Regions from separate parts of the Homo sapiens genome. Here region 2 is linked to region 1. The links come from fine-mapping of genetic effects on gene expression. A gene starts in region 1. The other region holds a variant in brackets. All regions are shown on one strand. Distances are between the middles of the regions.

Region 1 (2,923 bases):
ACTGTAATCCCAGCTACTCGGGAGGCTGAGGCAGGAGAATCTCTCGAACCCGTGAGGCGGAGGTTGCAGTAAGCCGAGATAGCGCCATTGCACTCCAAACTGGGCGACACAGCAAGACTCCGTCTCAAAAAAGAGTGTGTCTGTGTGTGTAGCGGAACTTTGTTTTTAACAACTAAAGAAATATGGTGACCCAATAATCCCGTTAGCCTTAGCTCAATTAATCACATTCCATCTGTCCTCACAATGTTCACCCCAGTGAGAAACGAGTTCAAGCGCGTGGTAAGCGGTGTCGATATATTTTTAAAATTCTGTTATCAGTATAATGTAACAGAAAATTCAGCATATTAGCCCAACTTTGCTCACTGGTGTGAAGATATGCCCAATCTTTCTTAGCTAAGACGTTAGAGAAAACGCCACAAGGGACCCAGCTGGGAGCTCTGTAGGAAGTTTAAAAAAAAAATCATTCAGCTTTGCAAAACATCTGATGCTCAACCATCTGTCTTTGGCAGTACAGGGGCTTAAGGTCTGGTTGGTTCCTTCTGACACCTCGGAAGGCGGAGTTACAGAGGAAAAGCAACAAGTTGTAGGAAGTTAACTTATCTAGTCTCAGACGCTGGAGGCACCTGCATTTCTAGTCACTTCAGTTCTGGCCAAACTGTTATCAACTCTAGTTTCTGAGGGACCGCCAGCCCAGGATTCCTATTGGGGTCACCTTTGTGCCTCCCTATCTTAAGAGCACACTTGGGCGGGTCGGGGCGGGACGTGCTGGGTGTAGGTGACTCAACACCGGACAGTTTTGCTTCCAGAGGCTGACACGCTCCTGCGCGGTAGTTGTTAAAGGGTTGGGACACGAAGATACTCTTCGCCTATTCGGGATCTCCCATTGTGGGAAGGAGGCTCAGTGGTCCCGGCCACCGGGTGAAGGGAGAACGGGAACACAGCGCTGTCATCGCCGGAGAGCTGCGAGCCCCGACTTTCTCGCCAGGCTCTCCAGTACATTCCGAGGCTCCACCCCGGTAACGCCACGCTGACGTCCGCGCGTCGGAGGCCGCCATAGGTGCGCGTCGGCGCCCAGGAGGACGTGTGGCGCGTGGACTACATCAGGTCCAGCCCTGCGGGACCCCAGCCAGCGCTTCCGGGCAAGGTTCTGTGCACCTGTTTTCTCCTTCTACGCGAGTATCTTTCCCCTCCGGAAAGAATGGGATATGCCTGTGTCCAAAGGACAAGAAGATGCGCGCCAGCAAGCCTAAGTTAACCACAGCGCGGAAGTTGAGCCCAAAGCAAGAGCGTGCCGGGCACCTTTAAGCTGTTTGTAAGCCCACGTGACTCACCAAGTGCGGGCCCCAGCGGTCACGTGACGGCGCGCGCGCCCTCGCGCAGGGAGAGCCGGCGGTGCGCGCGCCTTCGCCGCTGCCTCCCACCCACCCCCTCGACGGGAGGGTGAGGCGCGGCGCAGTGATCGGGCGGCCGGGGTCCTGTGCGCGTGCGCAGCGAACAGCTGTCACCTAGTGCGGAACAAGTCTCCCAAATTTCCCAAATCTCCCTGGGCCGGAGGCCACTGTCTTCTCTTCCTCCTCCACCGAGTCGTGCTCTCGCCCCAACCCGCGCGCCAGGTAACCGCTTTTCCGGAGTCTGGGGGCCAGGGCGGGGGGAGGGTCCGGAGAGGTCTTCCCGGCACTGCCCCCCTCCGCGTGGGGCACGGGGGTGCGGGCGTCCGGGCGAGCGGCGACGCTGGGGCAGAGACGCTCCGTCCGTGACTGCAGCGACTGTCAAGCTGGGGAGGGAGCGGCCGGCCGCGGCCGCAGGGGAGGGATGCGGGGGCCGGTGACAGCCCGCTCCGGCCCTTACCGAGGTTCGGTACCCGCGCTCGCCGTTTTCCCGGGATCCGGAGTCGGGGTCGCCTCCTTGGGGCAGAGGAGCGCTCGGGCGGTCCTGGGATGCGGACCTCTTAACGCCGCCAGTCGGCTGTGGCGGACTCCAGGAAGGCCGGGCCTGGTGCACCCCTCGGGGCCCTCCCTTCCCTGGGAGTGTCACGACCCGCGGGGTGAGGGTGGGAGCTCCTCTCCTGACCACCCGTTGCAGGCAGTCATCCCGTCATTCGGGGTCGTCTTCAGCCCTCGCGGCTGTCCTTTTGGTGTTTCTTTCCCCCGGCATGGGGCCATTTCTTCCTGCAGTGCCTGGAGGAACCATGATGCGGTGTAGACGGCGGGTGCTTAAATAAATGCGAGTTGGATTAGGGCGCGTGGACTGCCAGGCACAGAACGTGGCGTGGAGTGGGGACGTGGAGGAGGGAGCCAGACAGGCCGGGGCTGTAGGCAGGAGCTTGGGGTTTTCCTCTGTGCTCCGCCAGTAAAGCCAGCAGCCGGGATTCAGATGCTTTCCGCGTGGACTTGATGCTGGGCTCCCCCTTTGCTGCGCGGTGCAAGCCTGCGCTGGCTGGCTCTGATTGTGGGCAATACTACCGGGAGGGGTTTTGTCAGGTTCCTTCTTCCGGAAGAGACAAGGTAAACTTTTTTTTGCGCTTGATAAACTAACCCCGAGAGGTGATTTATAAAGCACTGTTCGGAAATGTAGGTTAGAAAAGCAGAGTCACTTTTATCCTGGTGAAAGTTACTAGTAGGTTCCGGCCACTTAGGTTCACACTAAACTCTGCCCTATTTTCACCCATTTCAGTTTGCGGTATTTAAAAAAATGTCTAAATTCCGGGCAGCTTGGCTTTACTGTTTCTATGGCAACGGTGACTAATATTCTCATTTCGAAGTGTTGTGGTTGAAAACTAGTGGTTTTAATTTTTAAAGGTCCATTTTTTATTAGGAAGCAGTCGGCTCTGCTTTGCGATTATCGCTTGCTTTCTTACCTTGCTGGCCTCCGCGCAACCCGCCCATAGTTTGTTTTGGAACGGATTACACGGTTGTTCGGGTTT
Region 2 (2,923 bases), 220 kb after region 1:
ACGTTTAACACTCTCCAACCCGGTTGTGTTTCAGTGCACTTGCAGGAAAGACATGGTGAAGATTTCAATGGATATCTTTGTGAGGAAATTTCAGCCAGACAGATATCAGCTTTGGAAACAAGGAAAGGATATATACACCATTGATCACACGAAGCCTACTCCAGCATCCACCCCTGAAGTAAAAGCATGGCTGCAGAGGAGGAGGAAAGTAAGAAAAGCATCCCGAAGGTAATGACCCCTCACCCCACTGACCTGCCTTGCCTGTCGTGTTTTCTCAGTTAAAATGGGTCATTGGATGTGGCAATTTACTTGCTTTTTCTATTTATTCATCATAACTTAATACCTTTCTGAAAATGTGAGACATTATTTTTAATTCTTAGGTGTGTAATAAATACAATATAGGAAGAGATGTATATTTATTTTGTTTGAGAATATTCCTGAAGTTGCTCGACATGGCAAATAGAACAATATAGAACTTGTTAGACCACTTACATGAATGTGTTTTATGGTTGTATTATTCCTTTCTGTGCATTTCCATATTTTAATCAATAACTTGATTTTCCACTTTTTCATTTTGCCACCATTTTGCTTTTTGGCTTTAGTGGTTATCTTCTTCATTTGTCCAACATCTGAGCTACTGCTCTCTTCTGGATGCTTATATTTTACTACATTTTATGCACATGGTTTTATTCTTTTGTAAGATGTAAAACACAGCATATAGCATTTCTGTAACATGCTTATCCTTGTGAACTTTATTCTCCATTCCATCTTTGTGGCCAGGATCATTTCAAAAGCTTTTAGATGTGCTGTGGGCATCTTGTTGTTTTAAAACCTATTGAATAGGGTGTGTGTGGTGTTGCTCAGGTCCTTAGGCTACCTTTTAAGGGTCTTATGTTTTCCAATTTTATGTTAAATTTTCCTCTTCAATATTACTCATTGTTTTTCTTTCAGATTATAAAAGTAATATTTGTGCATTGGAGGAAATTTGTAAAATAAGGAAAAGAATAATGAAGGAATCCCATATCACTCATAACCTCACTATCCAGAGATAACCAGTATTAACATTTTGTATATATCCTTTACCTATATATTTATTATATATTTTATAATATTATATATCTTTCCAAAATTGGGGCCATGCTCTGTTAATAATCTGACAATCAGTTTTGAGTGTTTTTTTCATGTAACTGATTGATTTGCTGCAACAT[G/A]ATTTTTAATGCCTGCATGTATTTAATCCCCTGTAGCTTGTGTCCACTTTTTTGATATTAACTAAGTAACACCATAATTTTACATCTTTGCCCAGACTTATGATGCTTATTTTCTGTCTTTTTTTTTTCCCTGATATTTATTTTCTGCTTATTTAGAGTGGTAGTGAGTGGAAGAACCTTAGGAACATGGAGTCAAACTTCGGCATCTTATAAGAGGTAGACCTGAGGTGCAGAACTAACTCAGGTGTTGATATTTCCCCCTGTAGTTTACCGCAATGATCGTCAAAGTGTTTGTTAGTAGGTCAGGACCAACATTTTAAAATGAGGTGGTAAAATAGAATAAAAAGTATTATAGTGCTTCCTCTGTGGTAAGGGCAAATATTCACTCATGACATGTGTGAGTATGTGTGTATGTGTGTATATAGTGTCACTATCTGAAATATATAACTCACTGTGGGTTACATTCAAGAAAAGTTTGAGAAATACTAATTTGGACAGTCAGTGTCTTTGATAACTGTGTTAATTCACAGCACTAAAGAAGCCAGCGCTGGAAGGAGGCAGTATCCAATCCTGAGTTCAGAATACACACCAGGAGAACATCTTGAGCATTGTTCTGTCATGGATGGAAAACACAATATTTTCATTAGGTGTATGACTTGGTTTCCAGGTATTAACCACAGTGGGCCTTTTGGGTTGATAGAGAACATGGATTTATGACACTTGAACAGATCAAAATGCTTGTCAGTAGGTTCAAATAATCAATGGAACTTGCTCACCTACTTAGAAAGCCTGACTATGGGCTTGTTTAATATGCTCAGCCTTGTGGCTTGATATTTAGAGATTATTGATCTCCCTTTGGAAATAGCCCATTTAGGGAAGTCTGATGAAGGGAATGATTCATTGATGTCTCAAGCACATGTCAGCCTTCTTTTTTTCACATATACTACACTGTTTATAATGTTGAGATTTTCCCACATCAGCCAATGCATGGATTTGCAACAAAAGCAATGATGGTGATGATCATACTACTGCAGTTACTGCCATCAGTAGCAGTGAAAGCTAATTTATATAGGTTATCGCAGGCCACCCTATTCTCTGCCCTCCCTGACTTCCTACAGTGCTTAGTCCTGTGGTGGTTTCTTGTGTGTGTATAATACATATGGGTGTGTTTTGGACACTGTTGCTTTGAGTTGATTTGTAATTGTTCCTAATTGTTAGGAATGTTTGTTTCATATGTAAAAAGCATATATGCCAAAGCTATCAAGTGACCTGCTGGAAAATACTCAGGAAGAAGATAAAAATTGTGTTCACTCTGAAAATAGTATGTTGATGTACGATGTTAAATACATAAAATTAGGCTGAATGTGGTGGCTCATGCCTGTTATCCCAGCACTTTGGGAGGCAGTGGGGGAGGATCACTTGAGGCCAGGAGTTCTAGACCACCCGGGACAATATAGTGAGACAGTGTCTTTATGACACACACACACACACACACACACACACACACACACACACCAGTTAGCCTGTGTCTGTTTTAAATCCTTTCGCTATTGATGAATTGGCATTTAATTTGAACTATTTTCATACATACCTGACAATTATACAAAACTCAATGAAAAGTAGTCAGTAGTTTACCTTGAAATATAAAAAATTTACTTTTAGCACTAGCCTAACAGGATATTCTGATTTTTATTTATTTTCTTCATTTTCTAAAT

Evidence for each region.
Region 2: its variant is fine-mapped to the expression of KDM4C in thyroid (GTEx, PIP 0.93).

What each region holds. Positions count from the first base shown.
Region 1 is chr9:6,756,591-6,759,513 of GRCh38, forward strand. It overlaps KDM4C (lysine demethylase 4C), which reads left to right and starts at 1,383. Exons shown (of 22, transcript NM_015061.6): 1 at 1,383-1,613. RefSeq lists enhancers at 1-185, 917-1,276, 2,477-2,696 and silencers at 1,317-1,556, 1,647-1,816.
Region 2 is chr9:6,980,891-6,983,813 of GRCh38, forward strand. KDM4C (lysine demethylase 4C) reads left to right here. Exons shown (of 22, transcript NM_015061.6): 9 at 35-228. Among named protein-coding and RNA genes, the nearest start is that of KDM4C, 220 kb to the left of the region's middle. The variant G/A (reference allele first, on the strand shown) is at 1,209.